7 linked regions of the Homo sapiens genome follow. The protein of the gene in region 1 interacts with the protein of each later gene in a biochemical or structural test. Each region holds a gene or a part of one and is shown in the gene's direction. Other genes may lie near its edges. The genes, in order: SRPK2, PNMA8B, NADK, HMGA1, RTF1, HERC3 and ADGRG5.

Region 1 (3,978 bases):
AAGCCCCCCTTCTCTTGCAGTGTTAAAAATGTATGGACATCATTAGCCATCAGGGAAATGTAGATCAAAACTACAACAAGATACTTCATATCCACTTGGGTGGATAAAGTAAAAAACGATAGTAAGTGTTGTTCAGGGCGAAGAATTGGAACCCTCATACATTGGTGATAGGAATGTAAAATGGTGCAGCCACTGTGGAAGACACTTTGGCAGTTCATCAAAAAGCTAAATATAGAGGCACCATATGACCTAAGTACGGTAACTCCTAGGTATATACCTCCCCTCAAAAAAAGTATGTTCACACAAAAATGTATACACGAGTGTGAATAGCAGTATTATTTTTATAGCCCCTAAAGTGAAAATAACCCAAATGTTCATGAGGTGAAGGGATAAACACAATGTTGTATCTCCATACAGTGGAATACTGTTTGCCAATAAGAATAAGCGAAGTACTAATACATGCTGCACAAGAGTCAAACTTGAAAACATTATGCCAGTTACAAAAAAATACTTTATATGATTCCATTTATAGGAAATGTCCAGAATCAGCAAGTAGATTAGTGGTTGCTAAGGGTTAGAAGGGGTAGGAGAGAGATGGGAAGTGAATGCTGATGAATATGTTGTTTCTTTTTGGAGCAATGAAAATGTTGTCATTTAAATAGTGGTGGTAGTTGCCGTGTGTGGTGGCTCACGCCTGTAATCCCAGTACTTTGGGAGGTCGAGACAGGTGGATCACAAGGTCAGGAGTTCGAGACCACTGGCCAATATGGTAAAACCCCGTCTCTACTAAAAATACAAAAAAAATTAGCCAGGCGTGGTGGCATACGCCTGTAATCCCAGCTGCTTGGGAGGCTGAGGCAGGAGAATTGCTTGAACCTGGGAGGCGGAGGTTGCAGTGAGCCAAGATTGTGCCACTGCACTCCAGCCTGGGTGACAGAGCGAGACTCTGTCTCAAAAAATAAATACATAAAAAATTTAAAAAATAAATAGTAATGATAGTCGCACATCTAAAATCCATTGAATTGTATACCTAAAGGGGTCAATTGTATGATACATGAATTACTAGCCTACTGTTGATCAGAATCCTTAATGATCACATGACCAATTAACATGTATTTTGTATGTGTGTTATATAGCATATTTTTACAACAAAGTAAGCTAGAGAAAAGAATGTTAAGACAATCATAAAGAAGAGAAAATATACTTACTATTCATTAAGTGGATAGATCATATGAAGTAGATGATCATAAAGGTCTTCATCCTCATTATCTTCGCGTTGAGTAGGCTGAGGGGTTGGTCTTGCTGTCTCAGGAGTGGCAGAGGTGGAAGACAATCTGTGTATAAGGGAACCCATGCAGTTCAAACCTGTGTTGTTCAAGGTTCAACTGTATGTAGATGCATTTGCTTCCACGAGCATAAATAATCTCTGAAATTATACACACTGGTTGCTTATGGAAAGGAGAGCTGGATTCCAATGTGGGTAGGCATGGGAGGGAGATTTTTACTAAATATCCTTTTGTGTTTATCAAACTTTGTACCCTGGCATTGTATTACATGTTTTTCAAATAAATAAAAGTTATATAATGAGATATTAATAGCTTATCTTCTCTCTTGATTTTACTATATCCAGGTCCTTCAAGGGTTAGATTACTTACACAGTAAGTGCAAGATCATTCATACTGACATAAAGCCGGAAAATATCTTGATGTGTGTGGATGATGCATATGTGAGAAGAATGGCAGCTGAGGCCACTGAGTGGCAGAAAGCAGGTGCTCCTCCTCCTTCAGGGTCTGCAGGTGAGGGAGCTGAGCCAGCTTCATTTCAGTGTGGGGGCATTGGGAGCTTGCAAAGTTGCAGTTGTTGAAGGTATCTGAATCAAACGTTACACATAAGGAAGATTTTGGAAAAGTTTAATTGCTGGAAATAACTGCACCCTTGAAATGGAAAATGCCCCAGCTACATTATATTTTAATATTGGAAGTATTTACTTTTGTCCCCCTTTAAAAGGCCATTTAAATTTGTAGTTGCTGCTTCATCTATATTTGAACAGTTTTTTCTGTTGCCAGCTTCTCTGCAGAGGAGAACATAGTAACAGCTTTCCTGTAGCTGACCTTTAGTCATCAGAATATTTTTCTGGCTTCAATTTTGTGTACATAAATTCTTGTTGTCCATTTAGCATAGCTATGTCAACCTGAGTTGTATCAACAGATTTGGAGTTAGTTAGAAAAGGCCTGATGGTGGGGGAAGAAGATCAAGTGACCTGAGTATTGGGATATCTTTATTTCTGGGGCGGGGTCGGGGAGGTGGTGCAGTGAAGTGTGGACTGTGCTTCTCACTCTTCGACACCATGATCTGTGCCTTTGTGTGTTGTCAGGCAAGCATGGATACTAAAGGGCTGAGGCTCCTGGGACTGCCTGGGGCTCTCTTCACATCTCCTTTACTGCCATCAGGGTGTTGTTTAGATCATGGACCCAGCCTGTTAAGCTTTTGACCCTGGTGTAGGGGTTTAATCATGTGATTCCTAGACTATTTGCTGCATACCAACTGCAGTATTTGATTTAAATTATAGAAAGCTTGCAAAATAGATTCCAAATATCGATGTACATCTACATTGTTCATTTCATTATATTTTAAACAAATTTGGTTTAATGACTGTGATATGTATTCTTTTCCATTTTCTTAAGTGATCTGTTGGTGCTTGAGCTTGACTGTGTTTGAGATGTATTAGTATTTCATTTTAGATAAATAAGAGAAATGGCTCAGTATGAGTAACTTCTGCTGTGACTTCAGGAGTCACTCATTTGTTTCAGTGGCATAAACTTACTCTAGATCCTTGTGATTAAGAAGCTCTGATTAATAGTTTTTGAAGTTGGATAGCCATTAAAAGACAATAATTATTTCACTTTGCAATTCGAATGACCTACATGAAGGCATGTGTCTGTTTTCTGCTAAATACAGATTTTGTTTGATTTTATTTTAGTGAGTACGGCTCCACAGCAGAAACCTGTAAGTACTTACGCATATTACTTTATATGCACCATGTTAAAAGAGACCGTTTATTATTGAGTTGTTCAAATTATAAAAAAGTTGTGTATTTAAAGGGTAGACACATTTATAAAAGCTGTGTATCCTCAAATAGGTAAGACTTAATGTCTTGTTAATTTTTTTTTTTTTTTTTTTTGAAAACTGAGTTTCACTCTGTTGCTCAGGCTGGAGTGCAAGTGGTGCGATCTCGGCTCACTGCAACCTCCCCCTCCCTGGTTCAAACGATTCTTGTGCCTCAGCCTCCCGAGTAGCTGGGATTACAGGCACCTGCCACCGCACCCAACTAATTTTTGTATTTTTAGTAGAGAGGGGTTTCACCATGTTGGCCAGACTGGTCTCGAACTCTTAACCTCAAGTTATCTGCCTGCCTCGGCCTCCCAAATTTCTGGGATTACAGGTTTGAACCACCACGCCCAGCCTGTCTTGTTAAGTTTTAATGATCTGTGCAGAGTTGGGATAGTTAGAGCCTTTCAAAAATTGTCTTCTTTATGCATTTTCTGGACTATGGTGGCCAAGTTTAGTGAAATGTGAGGTGATGGAGTTGAAGTATTTTTATTTCAAAACCACTTTACATTATTTCTGATTGGCTGCTAAGTTACCTGTTTTTCTGAAGCTGTTGTTCTAATTTTTTCCATGCGGATGTTAAATAAGAAAGAGACTGATCTATTTTGTGGTCCTGTCAAAACACTATGTCCTTATTAGATACTGGGTGTGGTGACTCACGCCTGTAATCCCTGCACTTTGGGAGGCTGAGGCCACTAGATCACTTGAAGTCAGGAATTCAAGACCAGCCTGGCCAACATGGTGAAATCCTGTCTCTACCAAAAATGCAAAAACTAGCTGAGTGTGCTGGTGGACGTCTGTAATCCCGGCTACTCAGGAGGCTAAGGCAGTAGAATCACTTGAGCCCAGGAGGTAACGGTTGCAGTGAGC
Region 2 (4,446 bases), on another chromosome or scaffold:
TCAGCTACTTGGGAGGCTGAGGCTGGAGAATGGTTTGAAGCCGGGAGGCGGAGGTTGCAGTGAACCAAGATCACGCCACTGCCCTCCAGCCTGAGTGACAGTGCGAGACTCTCTCTCAAACAAACAAACAAACAAAAAACTAGTCAGGCATGGTGGTGCATGCCTGTAGTCCCAGTTACTCGGGAGGCTGAGGCAGGAGAATGGCTTTAACCCGGGTGGTGGAGGTTGCAGTGAGCCGAGATTGCTCCATTGCACTCCAGCCTGGGCGACAGAGCAAGACTCCATCTCAAAAACAAACCAACAAAACAGATGCTTTTATAATGGTAAGTTCTCAACAAATACTTCTCTTAGCCATCTTTCATGGAGCACCAGCTGTGGGCCAGCTGCTCTTCTAAATGCTTTCCTGGATTATTCCCTTTAATCCTCATGAGAACCCTTTGAGGCCAGGCATGGTGGCTCACCATGTAATCCTGTAATCCCAGCACTTTCAGAGGCTGAGGCGGGCAGATCACTTGAGGTTAGGAGTTTGAGACCAGCCTGGGTAACATGGTAAAAACCCATCTCTACAAAAAATACAAAAACTTGCCAGACGTGATGGTGTATGCCTATAATCCCAGCTACTTGGGAGGCCTGTCATCCTTGCTACTCAGGAGGCTGAGGCAGGAGAACCGCTTGAACATGGGAGGCGGAAGTTGCAGTGAACCAAGATTGTGCCATTGCACTCCAGCCTGAGTGACAGAGCAAGACTCCATCTCCAAAACAAACAACAACAAAAAAACAAAACCCTTTGAGGTAGGGATGATGGTTGAGATATAAACCTACCAGCTGGTCTACAGAGCCAGATTCATATAGAGTAGGGGACAGCCTCATGGCCAACAAGGGACAGAGAAGCAAATGCATGTTTACAGTAGCTATGACTGACGTTCACACGCCCCAGTCTGCTGTCCCAGTCAAGGGAAATGCTTTCTTGCAAAATTCATGCCTGGTCTCACAATCATACATATGCTCAAAGCGTGTGCAAAACCACAGGATTTATTGTGCATGCATAGTTCAGAATACAGGAACGTGTATGGGAGTGAGGGCCGGTCCCATCGAGTGGGGCCTGTACCCTGCAAGTGAGGCCCATATACCCTGAATGGTGTCTTGCTCACAGGTGGTGCCTGGGCCCCCCTATTTGATACTGAGACCCATATACTGTGAATGAGGCCAGTATCCCGAGTAAGTCCTGGTCCTACGCTGCAAGGCCAGTGCCCTTTGATTTAGGCCTATATAATCCTGAATTCCACCTGGCCCCTGGAAGGGGGAATTGTAACCCCCAGTGATGCCGGTACCCTCTGGAAGGAGGCCTCTATCCCCTGAATGAGGTCGGGTATCCTTGAGTGATTTCTGGCCCTCTGTGGTTTCGGCCTTGTTTTTTGCTGGTTAATGAAAGTGGTGCTTCCAGGCCCCAAGTCCTTGTCATCGGGACCTTTAAGAAAAGCGTCTCAGGCCACAGCGACGCAGACCCCAGCTCAAGGCTGCACCGTTGCCATGGAGACGGTTGGGCGGGGGACAGGGGAGGGTGTGCGGCTCCCTCTGCGCAGGCGCACGCGCGAGCAGCCGCGTCGCAGCGGAACTGCTGAGATTCAGGCCCAGGGTGCGCGCTCAGACGCGGCGCGAGCGCCAGGCAAGCTGCGGCTGCTACCTCCCACGCCTCTCCAGGTGCACTCGGCGCCGCCCCCCTGCACCTGGCTGCGGTGCCGAGTCACTCAGGCCTGTGTCAGGGAGAGAGGGAGGGAGCTGTCCTGGAAAGCAGACACGTAAGCCCCCCGCGGATCCTCAGACAGCTCTGGAGAGGGGTCCCGGGGGAAGGTCACTGCGTCCAGCCGGCCAGCAGGCAGCTAGAGCCCCCGAGCCCCGAGCCCCACTCCAGCCTTGCCACATTCACCGGAACCGGGACTCTAAGCCCTGCAAGTGGCTTTCTAGGGTTGCATTGACACCGTGCGCTGCAGCCCACCCCTATCTCGGGCTCCCTGCTGCCCCAAGATCAGCGCCAAGGGGGCTGCACCATGGCCATGAGCCTTTTGCAGGACTGGTGCCGGAGCCTGGACGTGGACGCGCACAGGGCCCTGCTGGTCACCGGCATCCCGGAGGGCCTGGAGCAGGCAGACGTCGAAGCCGTCCTGCAGCCGACCCTCCTGCCCCTGGGCACGTTCAGGTTGCGACACATGAAGGCTTTGATGAACGAGAAGGCCCAGGCCGCCCTGGTGGAGTTTGTGGAGGACGTCAATCACGCTGCCATTCCCAGGGAGATCCCAGGCAAGGATGGGGTCTGGAGGGTTCTGTGGAAGGACCGTGCGCAGGACACGAGGGTCCTGAGGCAGATGAGACGCCTGCTGCTGGATGACGGGCCCACGCAGGCCGCGGAGGCTGGGACCCCCGGGGAGGCACCCACCCCTCCCGCTTCGGAGACGCAGGCCCAGGATTCTGGGGAGGTAACAGGGCAGGCTGGCTCGCTTCTTGGGGCAGCCAGGAACCCAAGGAGGGGCCGTCGGGGTCGCAGAAACAGAACCAGACGCAACAGGTTGACCCAGAAGGGCAAGAAGAGAAGCCGAGGAGGACGGCCGTCTGCTCCCGCGAGGAGTGAGGCCGAGGACTCTTCCGACGAGAGCCTGGGCATCGTGATCGAGGAGATCGACCAGGGCGACCTGAGCGGAGAAGAGGACCAGAGCGCGCTGTACGCCACGCTGCAGGCCGCTGCCAGGGAGCTGGTTAGGCAGTGGGCGCCCTGCAACTCCGAGGGGGAAGAAGACGGTCCCCGCGAGTTCTTGGCTCTGGTCACCGTCACCGACAAATCGAAGAAAGAAGAGGCAGAGAAGGAGCCAGCTGGGGCCGAATCCATCCGCTTGAACACCAAAGAAGACAAAAATGGTGTCCCCGACTTAGTGGCCCTGCTGGCTGTGAGAGACACCCCGGACGAGGAGCCGGTGGACAGCGACACTTCGGAGAGCGACTCGCAGGAAAGTGGGGACCAAGAAACAGAGGAGTTGGATAATCCTGAGTTCGTGGCCATTGTGGCCTATACCGACCCGTCGGACCCCTGGGCCCGGGAGGAGATGTTGAAAATCGCTTCTGTTATCGAGTCGCTGGGCTGGAGCGACGAGAAAGACAAGCGAGACCCCCTCCGACAGGTCTTGTCCGTCATGTCCAAGGACACTAACGGGACCCGCGTGAAGGTGGAAGAGGCGGGCCGCGAGGTGGACGCCGTGGTCCTGCGCAAGGCCGGGGATGACGGGGACCTCCGGGAGTGCATTTCCACCTTGGCGCAGCCGGATCTCCCTCCCCAGGCGAAGAAGGCTGGGCGTGGCCTCTTCGGGGGCTGGAGCGAGCACCGTGAGGACGAAGGGGGTCTTCTGGAGCTGGTGGCGCTCCTGGCTGCCCAGGACATGGCGGAGGTGATGAAGGAGGAAAAAGAAAACGCCTGGGAAGGCGGGAAGTACAAATACCCCAAAGGCAAACTGGGGGAGGTATTGGCGCTCCTGGCCGCCCGGGAGAACATGGGGTCCAACGAGGGGTCGGAGGAGGCTTCGGACGAACAGTCCGAGGAGGAGTCGGAGGACACCGAGAGCGAGGCGTCGGAGCCGGAGGACAGGGCATCCAGGAAGCCCCGGGCCAAGAGGGCGCGCACGGCCCCCAGGGGCCTGACTCCGGCCGGCGCGCCTCCCACCGCTTCCGGGGCCCGCAAAACCCGCGCGGGCGGCCGAGGCCGAGGCCGGGGCGTCACTCCCGAGAAGAAAGCCGGGAGCCGGGGCTCGGCCCAGGACGACGCCGCAGGAAGCAGGAAGAAGAAGGGGAGCGCGGGCGCCGGGGCCCATGCCAGGGCAGGCGAGGCCAAGGGCCAGGCGCCCACTGGATCCAAGGCCGCGCGCGGGAAGAAGGCCCGTCGGGGCCGGAGGCTGCCCCCTAAATGCCGCTAGTGGCCCCCCAAGAAGCCGCCCAGGCTGCGAGCAGGCCCCGCAGGGCACCCGCCCGCCTGTGGCCCCCGCCCTCCCCTCCCCTCTTCCTGTCCTCCGCAGACGCAATCTCCTCGCTTCACAGCGCGCCCGGGCCGCGTTTTGCCAGCGTCACGTTCCCCTCTCGGGCCCTCGCAGGCCGGGGGCGCCAGCGATCCCGACGGAGGAAGCCCGGATGGGAGGAGGAAAGAGAAGTGGGCGCCCGAGGCAGCAGCGCAGGGCCGAGATGGGGACGCGCCAAGTGGACCAGGATTGGGGGCCCGGGTTGCCCCCGGAGGGGGTGTGTGTGTGGACGCCGGGCACCTGCAGAGGCGAGCAGGGCTCTTCGTGGCGCTCTCGGGGCCTGCGCCTGGCAGGTGCTGTAGGCCGCTGTCGCCCCTACCCCAGTCTGACTGGGCCCTGGGTCTGTGGTGGAGGCTCAGTCACCAGCCGCGCAGCGCGTGTCAGGGCGCAA
Region 3 (3,978 bases), on another chromosome or scaffold:
AACAGGAAAAAAAAAAAAAATTCAGGGTTCCATTAAGTATAAAAGATTTTAAACACCACTAAGACTTTTTCCAGCTGGGTGAGGTGGCTCACGCCTGTAATCCCAACACTTTGGAAGGCCAAGGTGGGAGGATCACTTGAGACCAGGAGTTTGAAACCAGCCTGTGCAACATAGGGAGACCCCATCTCCACCAAAAAAAAAAAAAAATTTCCAGGTGTGGTGGTGCATGCCTGTAATCCCAGCTACTTGGGAGGCTGAAGTGGGAGGATTGCTTGAGCCTGGAAGGTTGAGGCTGCAGTGAGCTGAGATCACACCACTGTACTCCAGCCTGGGCAACAGTGGGAGATCCTGTCTCACAAAAAGACAAAAAAAAAAAAATTTCCAGTGCTTTCTTCTAAAAAGTTTCATAGTTTTAGTCCTCACATTTAGGTCTATAATCCATTCTGAGTTAATATTTGTATGTAGTATGAGGAAGTGGTTGGGCTTCGTTCTTTTAGACGTGGCTGTCCAGTTGTTCAGAACTATTAGGTGAAAAGATGATCCTCCTCATGTTGAATCACCTCAGCACCTGTCAAAAATTCATGGACTGCATGTGTGTGAGGGTCTGTGGCGTCTACCTTTGGGCTGGCCGTCCTGTTTCCTTGATGTGTATGTCCGTCTTGATGCTGCCACGCTGTCTGGTTCCCGTAGTTTTTCAACAAGTCATGAACTTAGCCCTTCGCGTTTGTTCTTGTTCAAAGTTTTTTCAGCTGGTCTAGATACTTTACATTTTCATGTGAATTTTATCAGCTTGTCCTTTCCTTTAGAGAAGCCTGCTTGGCTTTTGATGGTTGTGTTTGGGTAACATTTGCAGATCAATTTGATGAGAACTAAGATCTCAATATTGAGTCCTCCAATCCATGAACATGGTATGTCTCTCCATTTATTTAGGTTTCCTTTCATCTCTGTCAGCAATATTTTGTAGTTTTCAGTGTGCAGTTCTGACATGTCTTTTGCCAAATATATCCCCACATATTTTATATTTTTAATGCTATTATAGATCATATATATGTATATATATTTTAATAAGATATATATTTTTAATAATATATGTGTGTGTGTGTGTATATATATATATATATATATTTTTTTTTTTTTTATAAGATGAAATCTCACTCTTGTTACCAAGGCTGCAGTGCAATCTCGGCTTACTGCAACCTCCACCTCTCAGGTTCAAGTGATTCTCCTGCCTCAGCCTCCCAAATAGCTGGGATTACAGGCATGTGCTACCATGCCTGCCTAATTTTTTATATTTAGTAGAGACAGGGTTTCACCATGTTGGTCAGGCTAGTCACAAACTCCTGACCTCAGGTGATCCCCACCCACCTCGGCCTCCCAGTGTTGGGATTACAGGCGTGAGCCACCACACCCAGCTGTAAATTATATTGTTGTTATTATTATTATTATTTTGAGACAGAGTCTCTCTCTGTCACCCAGGCTGGGGTGCAGTGGTGCGATCTCCGCTCACTGCAAGCTCTGCCTCCTGGGTTCACACCATTCTCCTGCCTCAGCCTCTTGAGTAGCTGGGACTACAGGCACCCGCCACCATGCCCGGCTAATTTTTTGTATTTTTAGTAGAGACAGAGTTTCACCATGTTAGCCAGGATGGTCTCAATTTCCTGTTGTCTATTGCTAGTATATAGAAATACAGGCGATTTTTGTGTATTGAATTTGCCTTCTGAAACCTTGCTAATAAACTCACTTATTTGTTTTTCTACATAGAAATGTCATGTCATCTGCAAGTACAACTTCACTTGTTCCTTTTCTTATTTTGTTTAACAGACCTACATTTCATGCCAAACCTTTTCTGTCACTGTACCTTTTATTTTTTTCTTATGTTATTGCACTGGCTGTGGCCTCTAGTATAGTCCTCAATAGGAGTAGTTATACCAGACATGTTTTTGTAGGTTCTGGTTTTCATTGAATTTTTCATGGTTTTTTTTTCTTTTTTTCTTTTTTCTTTTTATTGAGGCAGAGTCTCACTCTGTCACCCAGGCTGGAGTGAGTGGTGCGATCTCGGCTCACTGCACCCTCCACCTCATAGGTTCCAGCAATTCTCCTGTTCTCCTTCCTCAGCCTCCTGCATAGCTGGAGTTACAGGTGCCCACCACCACTCCAGGCTAATTTTTTTGTTTTTGTTTTTGTTTTTGTTTTTGTTTTTGTTTTTGTTTTGAGTGCTGGGATTACAGGCAAGAGCCACTGCTCCCAGCCCTTTTTTTGTATTTTTAGTAGAGACAGGGTTTCACTGTGTTGGTCAGGCTGGTCTCAAACTCCTGACCTCAAATGATCCACCCACCTCGGCTTCCCAAAATGCTGGGATTACAGGTGTGAGCCACCGTGTCTGGCCGAATTTTTCATGTATTTGAATAAAACACTGGTATGTCTTTTTTCTTTTTTTTTTTTTCTTTTCATTTGAGATGGAGTCTTGCTCTGTCGCCCAGGTTAGAGTGCAGTGGCACGATCTCAGCTCACTGCAGCCTCTGCCTCCCAGGTTCAAGGAATTCTCATGCCTCACCCTCTCCAGCAGCTGGAATTACAGGCACGCGCCACCACACGCGGCTAGTTTGTTTTTTGTTTTTTGTTTTTTTTTTGAGACGGAGTCTCGCTCTGTTGCCCAAGCTGGAGTGCCATGGCGCGATATCGGCTCGCTGCAAGCACCGCCTCCTGGGTTCACGCCATTCTCCTGCCTCAGCCTCCTGAGTAGCTGGGAGTGTAGGCGCCCACCACCACGCCCGGCTAATTGTTTTTTGTATTTTTAGTAGAGACGGGGTTTCGCCATGTTGGCCAGGCTGGTCACAAACATCTGACCTCAGGTGATCTGCCCGCTTCGGCCTTCCAAAGTGCTGGGATTACTGGCGTGAACCACCGCACCCAGCCTGTACTTTTAGTCGAGACAGGGTTTCATCATGTTGGCCAGGCTGGTCTTGAACTCCTGGCCTGAAGTGATCCGCCCACCTTGGTCTCCCAAAGCACTGGGATTACAGGCGTGAGCCACCACATCCCGCCTGGTATGTCTTAAGCTAGGGAGATATTGACCCACTGGGACAGTACTGTCAATTCTCGCTAAACATTAGAATCTTCTGGGGAGCTCTTTTAAAGTGCCGGTGCCTGGGCTGTACCTTCAGGTTCTGATCATTCAGTCTGGAGGGCACGTAGGAATTGGTGTTGTTTGAAGCTCCTAAGGTGATTGTAGAATGCAGCCAGAGAGAGAACCAGCTTTTGGGTATTCAGAGAACCCGTTGGCTTTGACCGTAGCATAGGGCCCACAGTCTTGTGTCCATAGTTCCTGAACTTTCCTTCTGCCCACCTTGCCATCATCTCACATATTTTAGTTGTTTTATTTAGGCTGCTGTAACAAAGTGCCACAGGCATGGGGCAGGGGGCGGGTAAACAACAAAAATGTTTGTTCTCAGAGCTCTGGAGGCCAAGAGTCCAAGGTCAGGGTCCCAGCTAATTTGGTTCATCGTAAAGACTCTCTTTCTCACTGTAATGGCCATCTTCTCTGTGTCCCCACATGGCTTTACTTTTGTGCCCAGTGAGGGTGGGAACAGAGGTGAGGAGAGAGCTCTCTGGTGTTCTGTTTTGTTTTTGAGACAGGGTCTCTATTGCCTAGGCTGGAGTGCAACAGCACAATCACAGTTCACTGCAAAACCTCAAACTCCTGGGCTCATTGATCCTCTTGCCGGAGCCTCCAAGTACCTGGGACTGCAGGCATGCACCACTGTGTCCAACTGTTTTTGTTTTGGTTTTGTTTTTGTTTTTGTTTTGTAGAGACAGAATCCTGCTATGTTGCCCAGGCTGTTCCTGAACTCCTGGCCTCAAGTGATCCTCTTACCTCAGCCTCCCAAAGCCCTGGGATTACATGAGTGAGCCACCGTGCCTAGCCTGGTGTCTCTTCTTACAAGGATGCTCATTCTGTCTGATCAGACCCCACACTTA
Region 4 (4,006 bases), on another chromosome or scaffold:
GGGCCCAGGGCTTTCCTGCGTCCCCTCCACCGCCGGCTCGCCCCCTGAGGAGGGGGCTGGGCCAGGGCCTCGGCTGACCGGGGAGGAAGAAGGGGAGCAGAGAAAAACATGAGTCACAGCCGTGTGTCACTGGAGCGCATTTCAATTCCCTGCATCACAGGAGGTGTGGAAGGCCGCCTCGGGGACCGGGCGCGGGAGGTGCGCCCGAGAAGGCCCCGGGCCGGCCTGCAGGGCGCGCCGCTCCGCCTGCGCCCTTTCCTCCCCCACCGCCCTCCCCGCCATCTTCCCCTTTGGCTTCCTTCTCGCTCGGTGCAACAAGTCTTTGTTAAGCCGGGCGCCGGGCGGGCCAGGCGTGGCGGAGATGGCCTGCGTGCTCGGCCCCTGCCCTCAAAGCGCTTCCAGGCGACCTCTGGCCCACCTTTTATTTTTATTTACAGTCCCAACGGAAGGGCCCAGGTCCCCAAGTGGGCCTGCGTATCTCCAGAACACCATCTAAGTCACCTCAAGGTATGAAGCCTCCCTTGGGTGTACCTGCCAACGAGCCAATCGTTGGTTTCGCTGGAAGGCTCCACCTTGATCATGGCTCGCTGGTGGCCATTAATAAAACACTTTGGATTTCACAAGTTTCACGTTTGAATTTCACAAGACTTGTATCTCACCAATCAGCCACACGCGGGTTGACACTGAAAGGCACATGCTGACACCTGTCCGCCCAGGGGAAATCTACCATCTCTCTATTTTAGTTAGGGGGCGGCGTGTAGGCCGCGGAATTCTCTAACGAGCGCGTTTCTCTTCACCCCCTGGGCCCGCGTGGACCCCCGTCCACCCCCACACGCCCTGGGGGGGGGGCCGGGCCCACACGCCCTGGAAGCCCCTAGAGGTGACTCTCCCTGGGACCCCTGTACCAGGGAGGAAGGATACCGCCACCCGTCACCACCCCCCGCCAGAAGCTCCTTCGTGACTCCTCTGCGCGTGCCTTCCCACACCTCCTCCGTCCGGGACTGCGAGGAGTGGGCGGTCGACTCGAGTTCGCAGCCCAGGCCTCCCACACGCCCCTCCCTGCCGTCAGCACCCACCCGCGCGGCAGCGGCGGCGGCGGCTGGCGGGCGGCCGCCCTTTTAAATCCCCGGGCTCATTTGCATGGCCCCGCCCCCTGAGTGACACGGCTGGCGCGGGCGGGCCCGTCCCCCCTGCCCCTGGGTCGCTCTTTTTAAGCTCCCCTGAGCCGGTGCTGCGCTCCTCTAATTGGGACTCCGAGCCGGGGCTATTTCTGGCGCTGGCGCGGCTCCAAGAAGGCGTGAGTTCGCGGCCGCTCCGGTGGCTTCTTTTTTTTATATCTATAATTTAATTAAATTATTTATTTATTGAGGCCGCGCACGGGCCGTGCCCAGCTTCCTGCCCCTCGCCATCCTTCGGGGGAGGGGGAATATTTTTGTCCCCCCGCCTGGCTGTGACACATAAATACCCCGCGGGGGCCTGGGCGGCGAGCACGCGGCGGCGGCGGTCTCTGAGCGCCTCTGCTCTCTCCCGGTTTCAGATCCGCATTTGCTACCAGCGGCGGCCGCGGCGGAGCCAGGCCGGTCCTCAGCGCCCAGCACCGCCGCTCCCGGCAACCCGGAGCGCGCACCGCAGGCCGGCGGCCGAGCTCGCGGTGAGTCGTCCCCGGGGCCCGCGGCGGCGGCGGCGGAGGGGGGCGCCCGCGCCCCCGCCCGCACGTCGCCCCTCCTGCGAGCCGCCCGGGGCTGCAGCGCGCGCCGCCGGCTTTATTCCCAGGCCGGGGCGGCGCGAGCCGGCGGCGGGGGAGGGCCGCGCGGCGCGGGGGCGGGCGGCGGGGCCCGGCGGCGCGGGGAGGACGCCCGCACCCCTTCCCCCGCGCCGCGGGCGCCCTGCGGGGGGCGGGGACCCGGGAAAGGCGCGCGGTGGGGGAGGGGGCGCGCAGCTGCGGCGAGCGCGAGTTGTGCACCCGGCGGAGCCCGGAGGAGCCCGGCGCACCTCGCGCGGCGGCCGCTCCCGCTGGAGCCGGAGCCCGAGCCCGAGCCCGGGCCCGGGTGAGGGGCGGGGAGAGACACGGGCTGCGGCGCGGCAGGAGAGTGGGGGGTCGGGCGCCCCCCGCAGCTCAGGGAAGTTCTGGAAGTGAGGGAGATGGGGAGGAACCCCCAAATTCGGCCCTACGCCCTCTCGGCCTTTCTCTCGCGCCCCCTCCGCAGATGAGGCCGGAGCGCGGGCCTGGGTTTGGGGCTTCACCCCGACCCCACCTCTGGCCTGGCCCGCGCCTCTTCAGCCCCAGGGGCCGGGCCTGCCCTCCGCCCCCACAAACTGGTTTCGCTGCTTTGCTGGGCTCTGTTGGAACTAGTCCCTTTGACTCCCCGTTTCTATTTTATTTTCTTCTGGGGCTTTATTTTGCGGGGAGGGGACGGAGGGAGGGGGCTTTCTTCCTCTCCCCCGCGCCCGCGCGCGCCAGGTTTCCTGCCCCAAGGCGGGCTTGGGTGCCCCCTCTGGCAGGAAGTGGGGCCGGGTGCACCCGCGTGGCGGTGCATGCGGTCGGGGTGCGCTGCTTTCCCGCGCCTGCAGGAGCGGCCTGCGCCCCTCCCCCCGCGCGCCCTGGCCCCGGGTCCCGCCGGCCGGCCTGCAACGGCCGGGCGCAGACACTTGCAGAGTCACCCTCGGGCCGGGTCTGGAGCCTGATGCCTCGGGGGTTTAGCCCTAGCCGCTAGGCGGGTAGGCAAAGTGTCGGGTTGAAAGGGTCTCCGGGAACCTACTTCTTCCTGCTCGCCAACTTGCTGTGTGACCTTAGGCAACTCAAGGCTTCTCTGGGCTACTTTTTTACGGGGGACGGGGAAGAAAACAAGGGAACCCCCAAGATAATTTCCTAGGGCCTTTCCTGCAGAGTCCTTAAGTATTTGAGGAGCACAGTTTGCATGCACAGTGTATGGAGGAGACAGGCTTGAGGCCCAAGCGGGCTTATTACAAAGTGAGGGATTGGGGTTAGGCCCTAAATGTAGTTCCTCCAAGACAGGCCTCTGATGTTCAGAAACAGGTGGAAAAGACGAACGTTTCTTGGCCTCACTGGAAAGGGCCTCGGGCCTTCATTTAGTTCGTGGGGGGTTGGCTGAGGGGATTAAAGGGTCCCCAGCAGCAAGAGGTGGGGGGAGGCACCAGATGGTATGAGAGCTTCCAGGGAGACCCGCCAAGATCTCCAGGCAGGCCGGGCCAGGCTCTCTGGGATTCCGGACTGGCTTCGCCCAACTGGAACCCCCTCGATGAGGGGGCCCCAGGCAGACCTTATATGAGGTCAGCACTCGTTTAGTTGATTAATTTTGATGTTTAGTTTGAAGGGGGACCTGTGGTGTAATATAAGATTCTAATCACTGCCTGTAATTGCAGAGCAGGCCAAGCCACTAATGACGGAGCAGGATAAATCACCAACCACCTTGTTTAAAAGGGTCTCCAAGTCTGAAACATTATAAGATAGAATAATTACCAAAGTCCTGCTGTCTGGAGGGTCTCTTGATGCTTGAAAATGGAGGTCCTGGGCCCTCTAGAAATCACAAGTTTGCAAAAATGTTTTTTTCCTCTCATTGGGGTAAAAACTCTTTTTCTTCTTTTTTTTTTTTCTTTTAAATTAGACATGGGAGTCCCACCGTATTGTCCAGGCTGGTCTCGAACTCCTGACCTCAAGCAGTCCTCCTGCTTTGGCATCCCAAAGTGCTGGGATTACAGGCATGAGTCACCTCACCTGGCCCATAAATCATTTTCAAATGGTCTAGTTCTTATTTTGGTTAGAGTGAAGATTTCTTTCTATTATTTTAAGTTTTTCTAAACTATTACCTAGTTTGATCCTTGAAGCAGTCAGGAGGTAGTTCAGGCAGGTACCTTATAATTACCTTGATCTTACAGATTGAGAGGGGTTCAGAAGTGGAGCCGCTTGTCCCACCCCTTACCATGGCAGGCAGGGATTGGTTACTGGAAAAATGTGTAGCCTAGGCCTCCGGCGTCTCATCCATCT
Region 5 (3,978 bases), on another chromosome or scaffold:
GCTGGAGAGCAATGGCACGCTGGGCTCACTGTAGCCTCCGCCTCTAGGTTCAAGTGATTCTCCTGCCTTAGCCTCCCGAGTAGCTGGGATGACAGGCACGCGCCACCACTCCCGGCTAATTTTACATTTTTATTAGAGATGGGGTTTCTCCATGTTGGTCAGTCTGGTCTCAAACTCCCGACCTCAGATGATCCACCCACCTCGGCCTCCCAAAGTGCTGGGATTACAGGGGTGAGCCACCACGCCCAGCCCTGGGAGCTTTAACAGTGAGGCTTTTAGGAAAAATACAAAACTGATCTTCAGACACAGGTCATATTGGTGTATTTATTTTTATTTATTTATTTATTTATTTTGAGATGGAGTCTCACTTTGTTGCCCAGGCTGGAGTGCAGTGGGACGATCTCAGCTCACTGCCACCTCCGCTTCCCGGGTTCAAGCAATTATCCTGCCTCAGCCTCCCAAGTAGCTGGGATTACAGGTATGCACCACCATGCCCGACTAATTTTTGTATTTTTAGTAGAGATGGGGTTTCACCATGTTGGCCAGGCTGGTCTCAAACTCCTGACCTCAAGTGATCCGCCCTCCTTGGCTTCCCCAGGGTGCTGGGATTTCAGGCATGAGCCACCGCATCCGGCCTGATTGTTCATCGTTCAACAGATGTATTAGACAGCGTTAGACACTAGAGCTATTGGGTGAACAAAATGGAAGCAGTTTCCACCTTCAAGGAGTGTAAAGTGGAATGAGAGAGAGATGAGGTGGGGAGATTGCTCAGAGAGAGTAATTTCCTTACAATTGCACTACAGGCCATGAAGCAAGGACAAGAATACTGTGGAAATATTAACCAGGGACCCTATTCTAGCCTGATGAGAGTGACATTGAAACAGACCTGGAATATGTGTTAAGGAGAAGCAGATTAGAAGACTGAAGAGTAAAGGGAAGAGTGTTGAATGTTCATGGTTGAGGCACCAGCATATATAAAAGAAATGAGACAGGAAGGACCTCGAACCCTTATGAAACTGAAAGAAGCACAGAGTGAGTAACATAAACTAGTTGCATAGTTGGAGAGAGAATAGTACAAATGAAACTGTAGAGGTAGATTCTGTTTTGACCCTTTGAGGATGGAGAAGTCAGTTTACGGACTACACTCAGCAGTAAAAATAAAATTGAATTGATAGAAAACATCAAATGTGTCATACATAGTAAATATAAGTGATGAAATTTGTGTGTCTCATATGTACATGTAGATGTATACTGGGTTGTGAGGTATAATTTATCTTCCTGTGGGCTGCGTTAAAAAGAGAAAAGTTTTTTGGCCAGGCGCAGTGGCTCACGCCTTTAATCCCAGCACTTTGGGAGGCCGAGGTGGGTGGATCATATGAGGCCAGGAGTTCGACCAGGCGGGCCAACATGGCGAAACCCCATCTCTAGTAAAAATACAAAAATTAGCCAAGTGCGGTGGCACACACCTGTAGTCCCAGCCACTGGTGAGGCTGAGGCATGAGAATCCCTTGAACCTAGGAGGCGGAGGTTGCAGTGAGCCGAGATCACCACTGTATTAGCCTGGGTGACAGAGAGACTCCGTCTAAAAAAAACAAAAGAAAAAAAGAAAAAAATTTAAAGCCACTGGAGGGCGTCAGCCTCCCCGGTGGCTGGGACTGCAAGTGTGTGCCACCACACTTGGCTAATTTTTGTTTTTTATTTTTGAGACGGAGTCTCGCTCTTTTGCCCAGGCCGGACTGCAGTGGCGCTGTCTCTGCCACTGCAAGCTTCGCCTCCCGGGTTCATACCATTCTCCTGCCTCAGCCTCCCGAGTAGCTGGGACTATAGGCGCCTGCCACTGTGTCCGGCTAATTTTTTTTTTGTATTTTTAGTAGGCACGGGTTTCACCATGTTAGCCAGGATGGTCTTGATCTCCTGACCTCATGATCTGCCCGCCTCGGCCTCCCAAAGTGTGCTGGGATTACAGGTGTGAGCCACCGCGCCTGGCCAATTTTTGTATTTTTAGTAGAGACTTTGGAGTTTATTCTGAGAGTAATAGGAAGCCATTGAAGGATTTTAAGTTGGAGAAGATTTTCAGATTTGCCTTACCCAGACTATTGTGGAGAGTAATATGGAGGGGGACACTAATGAAGTGGCAGAGAGAGGAGTCCAGATGAGAGATGATGGAGAACATAAGTTCCATTAGAATGGAAGCGCCAGGAGGGTAACCGTATGTGTTCACTATGCTGTCCCTGGCATCTAGAGCAGTGCCTATATGCAGTTGGCACCCAGTCAGTATTTATTAAATGAAGGACTGACTTGGATTGATATGGTTGTTATAGAGATGACAGATAGTGGAATTGGTTGGACATGATGTTCAGTATGTAGAACTAAAAGGCCTTGAAGACTGAGGACTGATTAGATGTTAGGATGAGAAGAGGAGTATTTAGGATTGATGCCAGGCACTGGCATGAGATGGGGAGTGCTGGAGGAGCAGGTTTAGAGGTGAAGATCCTGCATTCAGTCTGGGATATGTGGAGTTCGAAGTGACTATGAGATGTCTAAGTGGAGACATCAAGTAGGTAGTTGAAAATAACACTTGAGGGCCAGGCACAATGGCTCATGCCTGTAATCCCAGCACTTTGGGAGGCTGAGGTGGGAGGATTGCTTGAGCTCAGGAGTTTGAGATCAGCCTAGGCAACATGATGATGAAACCTGATCTCTACAAAAAAAAAAAATTTTTTTTGGAGGTGGAGTCTCGCTCTGTTGCCTAGGCTGGAGTGCAGTGACACCATCTTGGCTCACTGCAACCTCCGCCCTGGGTTCAAGCGATTCTCGTGCCTCAGCCTCCTGAGTAGCTGGGATTACAGGCACATGCCACCATGCCCAGCTAATTTTTTTGATTGTTTGTTTTTATTTTTTTTTTTGGGATAGAGTCTCGCTCTGTCGCCCAGGGTGGAGTGCAGTGGCACGATCTCTGCTCACTGCAACCTCCCCCTCCTGGATTCAAGCGATTCTTCTGCCTCAGCCTCCCGAGTAGCTGGGACTACAGGCGTGCGCCACCATGCCTGACTAATTTTTTGTATTTTTAGTAGAGACAGGGTTTCACCATATTGGCCAGGCTGATCTCGAACTCCAGACGTCATGATCTGCCCACCTCGGCTTCCCGAACTGCTAGGATTACAAGCGTGAGCCACTGTGCCTGGCCATTTTTTTGTATTTTTAGTAGAGATGGGGTTTTTCCATGTTGGCCAGGCTGGTCTCGAACTCCTGACCTCAGGTGATCCACCCCGCCCCCCCCCCCCCCCGCCCCCCCCCCCCGCCGGCCTCCTGAAGTGTTGGGATTACAGGCGTGAGTCTACTGTGCCCAGCCGCTACATATATATGTGTGTGTGTGTGTGTGTGTGTGTGTGTGTGTGTGTGTGTGTGTAATTTTTGTTTGTTTGTTTGTTTGTTTGTTTTTTAGGCAGAGTCTCACTCTGTTGCCCAGGCTGGAGCGCAATGGTGTGATCTCGGCTCACTGCAACCTCCACCTCCCAGGTTCAAGCAATTCTCCTGCCTCAGCCTGCCAAGCAGCTGGGATTACAGGGGCCCACCACCACGCCCAGCTAATTTTTGTATTTTTAGTAGAGATAGGGTTTCACCATGTTGGCCAGGCTGGTCTTGAACTCCTGACCTCGTGATCCACCCACCTTGGCCTCCCAAAGTGCTGGGACTACAGGCATGAGCCACCATGCCTGGTCTACAAATTTTTTTTTTTTTTTTTTTTTTTTGAGACAGAGTCTTGCTCTGTTGCCCAGGCCGGAGTGCAGTGGTGCGATCTCGGCTCACTGCAAGCTCCGCCTCCCGGGTTCACGCCATTCTCCTGCCTCAGCCTCCTGAGTAGCTGGGACTACAGGCACCCGCCACCATGCCCGGCTAATTTTTTGTATTTTTAGTAGAGACGGGGTTTCACCGTGTTAGCCAGGATGGTCTGGATCTCCTGACCTCGTGATCCAC
Region 6 (3,978 bases), on another chromosome or scaffold:
ACTCTCAGTCTGAGGCTGAAGGCCTGAGAAATGGGTGGGGGCTGCTGGTGTAAGTATTGGAGTGCAAAGACCACAGAACCTGGAGTTCTGATGTACAAGGGCAGGAGAAGAAGGATGTCCTAGTTCCAGAAGAGAGAAATAATTTGTCTTTGCTCTGCCTTTTTGTTCTGGGCTTTCAGCTGACTGGGCGGTGCCTACCCACACTGAATGAGGATGGATTTTCTTTACTTAGTCACTAATTCAAATGCCAATCTCTTACAGAAAACTGACCCAGACATACCCAGAAATAATACTTTACCAGCTATCTGGGTATTCCTTAATCTAGTCATGTTGACTCCTAAATTCAACCATCACCACCCCCTCCCCACAAATGAGTCCCTAACTGGGTTGCAGGAGGTCACTTCAGAAACTCTCTTTGGTTACATTTAGAGATTATAAAGTCATTTACTTTTATAATTAAGGCAGCTGGGATGAGCTCACACAATTCATTTCATATTTAGTAATTAGTTTTTTCCTCTAGGGAAAGATATTCTGGATTATGCTGATGTTGGCCTTCCAGAACAGGGGTTCTCAACCAGGGTGATTTTGCTCCCCAAAGGACATTTGGCAATTTCTGGTAACATTTTTGGTTGGTACAATGGGGAGGGACTTGCTATTGGCATCCAGTGGGTAGAACCCAGCGATGCTGCTAAACATCCTTCATTCCCACCTGCCCAGCAAAGAATCCTCTGGTCCCAAAAGTCAATAGTACCAAGGTTGAGAAACCCCGTTCTAGATGGATAGCTTTCATGACATTTGGGAAGGGCTCTTGGCCAGACTTGTTAGGTTGTTCATCCTTAGTATCACAGATTTCGTATAGAGTTGTGGGGAAAGCCTTTTATTTTTTTTCAAACTGACATCTGTGTATTTCAGAAAGTCTACTCCTGTAGCGTACATAGGATGCATCTCAGGAAACCAATCAAAATGAAGACCAGATTTACAAAGCAATAAATACGTATAGATAAAACATTTTGTTTTTGTTTTCTCAACAGCATAGCAAAAAGCATATGGAAAATTACATATGGGAAACCAGAATTCATTTCTATATTTTGGGCAGATTTATTTTAAAAACAATAACAACAACAACGAAAGACCCAAAAAACAAAGTACAAGCAATTTATCTTCATTTGAGCATAGGGTTCCGATACATATAATTATGATTTTTAAAAAATGTTAGAAACTCTTATGTTTTCAAAAATTATAACATTGCTGTCAGAGTGTATTAAAATCATCTGAATGTGTCCATTACTCAAAAACAGAAGCCTGCTTTGCAAATAGATAGCTCTTTTGTAAATTAACAAATGTGGTATGTTCAAGAGCAGGATATATGAGATATTCTCTAAGTCTCAAAAATGCTAAGATTTTATTTAAGGTTAAAAAAATGATTTAGTTGCTAGAAAGTTAAAAATAGTGGCAATGAAATTAGTCCTTGGGTGAATGTAATTGTATCCTTTGTGTTAACGATGAGAGACATTAACTTTGCATTTACTATAGATCATTTTTATTTTAAATACTTTGGTAAGAAAGGCTTTCAACAAGGAAGTTCTACTGTCATTTGTTGATGAGTGGACCAGTTTGCACAGGGGACGTTATTTGTACCAAGCCACAGCATCTACATCTAGTTCAATGAGCCACAAAAACAGAAAAAAACCAAAAAACACAAGATGAAATCAGGGAAATAATTATTTGTTTATAAACTTCAAGATAGCCTTAACTTGATATGACAGTCCTTGTACTTTGACTTGAAGGAAAACAGATTTAAAAATTTGAAAATTCTTGTAAAAGGAATTCCAGTGTGGTTTATTCTTTGTGAAAGAATAATATTCTGTATTTTGGGTTTATTATTTTGAGATTTATGCAAAGTGTAGTATTTTTGTGGATCTTATCTGCCAGATCAAATTTAAATCTGATTACTAAGAACACAGTATTTTACTTGTTTATAATTCCTATCAGAGTGTTTGCTTTTTCTTTTATTATATACCTTTTTGATTTTGTTTGTTTAGAATTGATGAACATTTTAAAACGAGTCCCAAAATCCCTGGGATTGACCTGAACTCAACTAGGGTGTTATTTGAGAAGTTAATGAACTCTCAGCACTCCATGATTCTAGAACAGGTATGTTTCTATATTTGTAAAGTGCATTCTTAAAAATGCATTTTTGTATCGATGAATTCAACTTCAAGAGAAAAAGAGTAAGATGAAAAAGTGAAAGTCTCCAAATCTTAATTTTGTAAAGTATTTACTCTGGGAATTAGACCTACCTTTTGCTTTCTTTTGGCTTAAACCTTTCCAAGGCAATGCCCCTCTAGAATATACAGTTTGCACTGGCAGGGATCTTTGGCTTTTCTTTTCATGGATGTGTACTGAGGGCCTAGACCAGTGTCAGGCTCATAGTAGGTTCTCAGTGCATAGTGAATGAATGAGAGTTGAGAGTCTATCAAATAGCTTATGAACTTAGAGAAAGTTAACTAGATCTCAAGTATGTTTGAATTTCTCATTACTCTTTTCCCTCATACAGATTTTGAACAGTTTTGAAAGTTGTCTGATTCCCCAGTTGTCAAGCTCACCACCAGATGTTGAAGCCATGAGAATCTATTTAATACTACCTGAGTTTCCCCTACTCCAGGATTCCAAGTATTATATAACATTGACTATTCCCTTGGCTATGGCCATTCTTCGGCTGGATACAAACCCCAGCAAAGTACTAGGTGAATTTGCTAACCTCGATATCAGTGGTTTTATGGTCATTTGTTTTGTTGGTGTGACTCCTGGCTCTCAGTGGATTGAGATCCAAGAATCTATTTGTTGCCATTTAATATCCTTAACACTTAAAACCTTTTTTTCTTTGCTGTTAATTTTTAGCTAACCCTATTTTCAAGTTGAAAATAAAACCATTATTTAGATTATTTGAAATGACTCATGCCAGAATAATCTTGATTTTATAGTATTCACAAACCTAATTTATTTAACTTGAAACTATTTTTTTCTACCACATTTGCTCAGTACCTCAGTATTACTGTACGTTGGTCTTTCTCCTATGTCTAATTTAGGGGGTGGGAGTGAAGTGAACAGTTTCGGTGATACAGAGGTCTCCAAAACAGGAGAGGAAGAAAATGACCTAGTGTGGACTTACCAAATGTTTGTTTTGTTTTTCTTTTTTAGGACCGTTGAGTCCACACTGATTTTTGCAGGCTCCGGACACTTTGCTGAGATAAAAACCTTCCATTCCTCAGTGATTTGGAGAGTGTCTTTCATGGGAGTAGCACCTGAAATGTTTTTATTACTCAAGTGCAGGAAGTCTATCACCTGGCTTTTTACTTTTTTCCCCCCTGGTAAATTTTGTTAGGTGTCATTGCAGCTCAGTAACTTCTGTGTTCCAGATGGACTGGGATGTTACTTGAGTGTGGTCTCGCCGTGAATAAAGAGATTGTGTTCCTGAAGGTGGAATACTGGCTTTTCTATATTGCCTCCACCTTTGTAGAAGAGATAAAAACAGAAATAATAATGAAAGCACTAGTAAATGTTAGTACTTAATTTTTTTTAAGATCAAAAGCCTTTTGGGGGCACATTTTCTCAGGTGTTCTAGTTGATGTGAAACAGAGAGGTGGCAATATCAGAAGAAATCTTACCTGACTTTCAAGTTTTAGAGTTTTTTCATTTTTATTTTTCCAGGCTGGAAAATACAAAGAGAACATAATTGTTCAATTTTACACTTTATTTTTAACTTCTAATTATTGATATTTAAAAGAATACCCCAAAGTAGAGAGTATGCTACAGGTAGTCACCACACAAATTCAGCAGTTGTCAGTATTTTGCCCATTTTATTTCATCTGTCCCTCGCCCTCACCACCTTTTTATTTTTTGTTGGAGTATTTTAAAGGAAATCTCAGACATACTATTTCATTCTTTAAGTATTTCAGTATGGCTGAGTTTATTTCC
Region 7 (3,978 bases), on another chromosome or scaffold:
AGGTGACAATAAACTGGGACCTGAACAGGAGTTAATCAAGAGGAGGGGATAGATGGGGTAGGGAGGTAACAGTGTGCCAAGGACACTGTGTGTGCAGTGGTCTGGAGGTGCGTGTGACAGAGGTGTGGGTGGGGAGGCCCTGCCCTCCCAGGCTGTCTACAGCCCCCTCTCACCCTTACCCCACTCCGGGCTCTGGCCTCCCTGGCCATCTCTCTGGGCTGCAGTCAACTCCACCAGCTGGAGCAGATGCTACTGAACACCAGCTTCCCAGGCTACAACCTGACCTTGCAGACACCCACCATCCAGTCTCTGGCCTTCAAGCTGAGCTGTGACTTCTCTGGCCTCTCGCTGACCAGTGCCACTCTGAAGCGGGTGCCCCAGGTCAGAGGCTGCGGGTTGGGGGGTGTGGCCAGCTGCCCCGCCCTAGAAGTCCTCCAGGCATTTAAGGTCTGGACTTTCTTTAGGCTCCACTGTCTTCCTCCCCACACCCCACAGTCCAGGCTCTGCCCTAACTGGCAGTGAGTTGCCTCCTCTGTAAAATGGGGCTCATACTCGCTGTGTGAACTGTGGAAAGGGAGGTGCTTTATTGCCCCTGCAGGGCAGAATCTTCTTCCTGCTTTGGCTGGAGGCTGCCCGCTGCGGGAGGCGCTGTGGGAGAGGCCAGAAACCCTGGCTCCTTTTAGGACCCTGGGGTGATCAGCTGGATCCCTGGCAGGGGCTGGGGCTGGTGCTGGGGCTGGGTGCTGAGGTAGCTCCATCTTCAGGGGTTCAGTGGGTCAGGTAAACATCCAAAACTCAGGAACAGCATGGAGGGAAGGCCTGGGATCTTGGGAAGTTTGGGAGGAGATGCAGCCTGGGGGGAGAAGGTTCTGTGGGTGGAAACCCCAAGGAAGGTTTCACGGGGAGTGGGAGGCAGTGAAGGTGTTGGGGTCAGGTCTCCAGGTCCTGGTTGCCAAACAGCCTGTTTGCGACCCTCTGCAGGCAGGAGGTCAGCATGCCCGGGGTCAGCACGCCATGCAGTTCCCCGCCGAGCTGACCCGGGACGCCTGCAAGACCCGCCCCAGGGAGCTGCGGCTCATCTGTATCTACTTCTCCAACACCCACTTTTTCAAGGTCAGTGTGATGGCGGGCCAAGGAGGGTGGGTGCCGGCCCCTTCTTGGGATCCACTGCAGGTGCCCATGTCACTGCCTGGCCTCTGGGTGACCAGCACTGAGTGAGACCAACCAGCCATCTGTGCAATCCAAGCCAGCAATTGTCCCTCTCTGGGCCTCAGTTTCCCTGCCAACTTTAGCAGAATGGTAGGAAGGTATAATTACAATCTGCAAATAAGACCTAAGAAACCTACGATGTGCCTGTCGGTAGGCGGGAGACAGACAAGAAGGCACTTATTATTCCCTGCCCTCAGATAACTCTCTGTCTTGATGCCTAGACTAAGACCTTACAGATTTTTTTTTTTTTTTTTGGCAGAGTCTCGCTCTGTTGCCCAGGCTGGAGTGCAGTGGCATGATCTCGGCTCACTGCAACCTCTGCCTCCTGGGTTCAAGCAATTCCCCTGCCTCAGCCTCCTGGGATTACAGGCGTGTGCCATCATGCCCAGCTAATTTTCGTATTTTTAGTAGAGACCGGGTTTAACCACGTTGGCCAGGCTGATCTTGAACTCCTGGCCTCAAGTGATCCGCCTGCCTTGGCCTCCCAAAATGCTAGGATTATAGGCGTGAGCCACTGAGCCTGGCCTGATCTTAGAGATTTAATGTCAGCAGAAGGTTGATTATAGCCATAGAGATCCAGAGTGATGGATGAGTCAGGGTGGGGTTGGGGCTCTTCCCAGTGGGCAGTCCAGGGGAGTTTCTGGGGAAGGTGCCTTTCAACCTTGGCTTTGAAAGTGAGTGAGGATAGTGGTGAGGTGGAGGGCGTGAGGCTGGAATGCATTAAACGAATGGGAGGTGGAGCAGGGGGTGGTGAGAGGACAGCTTTCCACAGGGCAGAAACAGCACATGCAAAGGCTGGGAGGCTGGGAAGGCTGGGAGGCTGGGAGGCTGAGAAAGCTTTCACGCTGCACACGTGAAAGTCTTGCTGCTTGTTCTCATCCAGGGAAGCGGAGCTCAGACCTTACCCAGGGCCTCCCCATTTCCCCTCCACTCAGCCCTTCTCCTGCTGCCCTTCCAGGATGAAAACAACTCATCTCTGCTGAATAACTACGTCCTGGGGGCCCAGCTGAGTCATGGGCACGTGAACAACCTCAGGGATCCTGTGAACATCAGCTTCTGGCACAACCAAAGCCTGGTACTGCTGGGGGCGCCCCCGTTTCCACTGCACCCCTGCCCCTCTGTGACTCTCCTGTTGAACACTGGTTTGACTAGACCCAAACCTGTGGAACCATCTTGGAAATCCATCACACTTTGAAAATTCCTGCTCAAGAAATAAGAGAGAGAGAAGTTTTTACTCATGCATTTGTCAGAATTCTTTCAGTTGCAAGTAAGAAAAGACCACTTCAAGCCAGCTTGAGCACAGAGGGAACTGATTGGCACACATCCATGAAATGTCTAGAGGTGATCCACCAGCTTCAGACATAGCTGGATCCAGGGATGGATCTGATGCCCTTGTGGCTCAGTCTCTCTCCGTCTCAGCAATGGTCTCCTGTCTTGGCTGTCCATTCTGTGGCATGATGGATGCTGGAGAGCCAGACTTCCTTTCCCTCTTCCCATCAGGCTCTTCCCCCGACTCCCCACCCACAACCTGCCCCAGTGCAGATCAGGGTCTCAGGATCTTAAAGGTTCAGCTGGGTCACACATGTCCATCCCTGCACCTGTCACTGTGCCCAGGGGGATGGAATGTGTGGATTGGCCAGGCCTGGGTCACACGGCCCAGGGACTGGGGTGAAGGAGTGAGCTCCTAGGGTAAGTGCAGATGCTGATCCTGGAACAGAGACAGGGCTGCTTGTTGGGGGTGGGGGCAGAGTGGGGTGGTTCACAAGCCTCAGTGCCTCCATTTCTGGTTCCTGGCATTCCTGAAAAGCCCGGAGCCTCTGCTTTCTGGCTTCATCTTCCCTTCAGCTTCACCAGGACTGCCCTGCACTCTAAATTTCACCATCATCCTTTCCTTTCAGCTCTGGGCTTTTGCCACTATGGTTCCCTCCACCTGGAATGCCCTTGCCCTACTCGTGTTGAAATCCAACACGTCCTCTAAGGGTTCAGGGCCCCCACCTCCCCTTCTCCCTTTGGGTCAGCTCTGCCTACCCTCCATGGTCTTCCGTGACTACCTGTGTCATTTCCTCCACTTCTCCACCCACGTGGCTTGGCATTAGGGTTGTCTGTGGATGAGTCTCCCCCAACCAGGCGTGGGTCTGAGCACATTGCTGTTCCCCATGGGGAGGAAGGGAAGGGATCAGCTGGTTATGGAGCGCCTACTGTATAAAAGGCCAGAGCTGGACACTCAAGATTCCGTGTTGCCCTTTGTTTTTCCACCATTGTTGTAACATGGGTACGAATGATCCTATTCTGTAGATGACTAAACTGAGGCTCAGAGCAACTTGGTGTCTTGCCTGGGTCACTCTGAGAGCCCACAGTGGAGGTGGGACAGGAATCTGAGACTGTCTGAAGCCAAAGGCCAGCCAGTGCCTGGTAAAATGTTGGCAAATGTGCAGTTGAGTCACCGTTGGCCCCCAGGACTCCCAGACACTGATCTGCAGCCTTTCCTCTGCACCCTATGACTGACCCAGCATCTCCACCCAGGAAGGCTACACCCTGACCTGTGTCTTCTGGAAGGAGGGAGCCAGGAAACAGCCCTGGGGGGGCTGGAGCCCTGAGGGCTGTCGTACAGAGCAGCCCTCCCACTCTCAGGTGCTCTGCCGCTGCAACCACCTCACCTACTTTGCTGTTCTCATGGTATGTATGCATCCTGAGTGGGGCTCAGAGCTACAGAGGGCCCTGTGTCTGTGGCAGAGGAGCAAGGCAAAAGCTGGTGCAAGGGACAGAAAG

Evidence for each region.
Region 2: of the proteins of SRPK2 (region 1) and PNMA8B, one has a biochemical effect on the other in vitro, tested with the Homo sapiens proteins (one large-scale study listed by BioGRID).
Region 3: of the proteins of SRPK2 (region 1) and NADK, one has a biochemical effect on the other in vitro, tested with the Homo sapiens proteins (one large-scale study listed by BioGRID).
Region 4: of the proteins of SRPK2 (region 1) and HMGA1, one has a biochemical effect on the other in vitro, tested with the Homo sapiens proteins (one large-scale study listed by BioGRID).
Region 5: of the proteins of SRPK2 (region 1) and RTF1, one has a biochemical effect on the other in vitro, tested with the Homo sapiens proteins (one large-scale study listed by BioGRID and IntAct).
Region 6: of the proteins of SRPK2 (region 1) and HERC3, one has a biochemical effect on the other in vitro, tested with the Homo sapiens proteins (one large-scale study listed by BioGRID).
Region 7: of the proteins of SRPK2 (region 1) and ADGRG5, one has a biochemical effect on the other in vitro, tested with the Homo sapiens proteins (one large-scale study listed by BioGRID and IntAct).

The regions. Positions count from the first base shown.
Region 1 is NC_000007.14:105,144,311-105,148,288, reverse strand, and holds part of SRPK2 (SRSF protein kinase 2), read left to right. Parts: intron 1-1,630; coding exon 1,631-1,796; intron 1,797-2,980; coding exon 2,981-3,006; intron 3,007-3,978. UniProt on the Homo sapiens protein: Serine/arginine-rich protein-specific kinase which specifically phosphorylates its substrates at serine residues located in regions rich in arginine/serine dipeptides, known as RS domains and is involved in the phosphorylation of SR splicing factors and the regulation of splicing.
Region 2 is NC_000019.10:46,493,068-46,497,513, reverse strand, and holds the start of PNMA8B (paraneoplastic antigen-like protein 8B), read left to right. Parts: upstream 1-1,646; 5' UTR 1,647-2,048; coding exon 2,049-3,956; 3' UTR 3,957-4,446.
Region 3 is NC_000001.11:1,768,203-1,772,180, reverse strand, and holds part of NADK (NAD kinase), read left to right. Parts: intron 1-3,978.
Region 4 is NC_000006.12:34,235,667-34,239,672, forward strand, and holds the start of HMGA1 (high mobility group protein HMG-I/HMG-Y), read left to right. Parts: upstream 1-1,206; 5' UTR 1,207-1,215; coding exon of another isoform or gene 1,216-1,297; exon of another isoform or gene 1,298-1,537; coding exon of another isoform or gene 1,538-1,651; intron 1,652-1,748; coding exon of another isoform or gene 1,749-2,714; intron 2,715-3,124; exon of another isoform or gene 3,125-3,291; intron 3,292-4,006. Other genes in the region: translation initiation factor IF-2-like, read left to right, coding at 580-590, 909-1,064, 1,216-1,297, 1,538-1,651, 1,749-2,714. UniProt on the Homo sapiens protein: HMG-I/Y bind preferentially to the minor groove of A+T rich regions in double-stranded DNA. It is suggested that these proteins could function in nucleosome phasing and in the 3'-end processing of mRNA transcripts.
Region 5 is NC_000015.10:41,423,418-41,427,395, forward strand, and holds part of RTF1 (RNA polymerase-associated protein RTF1 homolog), read left to right. Parts: intron 1-3,978. UniProt on the Homo sapiens protein: Component of the PAF1 complex (PAF1C) which has multiple functions during transcription by RNA polymerase II and is implicated in regulation of development and maintenance of embryonic stem cell pluripotency.
Region 6 is NC_000004.12:88,665,335-88,669,312, forward strand, and holds part of HERC3 (probable E3 ubiquitin-protein ligase HERC3), read left to right. Parts: intron 1-2,042; coding exon 2,043-2,154; intron 2,155-2,557; coding exon 2,558-2,747; intron 2,748-3,978. UniProt on the Homo sapiens protein: E3 ubiquitin-protein ligase which accepts ubiquitin from an E2 ubiquitin-conjugating enzyme in the form of a thioester and then directly transfers the ubiquitin to targeted substrates.
Region 7 is NC_000016.10:57,562,867-57,566,844, forward strand, and holds part of ADGRG5 (adhesion G-protein coupled receptor G5 isoform 1 precursor), read left to right. Parts: intron 1-224; coding exon 225-381; intron 382-981; coding exon 982-1,113; intron 1,114-2,167; coding exon 2,168-2,284; intron 2,285-2,422; exon of another isoform or gene 2,423-3,732; coding exon 3,733-3,885; exon of another isoform or gene 3,886-3,978. UniProt on the Homo sapiens protein: Orphan adhesion G-protein coupled receptor (aGPCR). Ligand binding causes a conformation change that triggers signaling via guanine nucleotide-binding proteins (G proteins) and modulates the activity of downstream effectors, such as adenylate cyclase.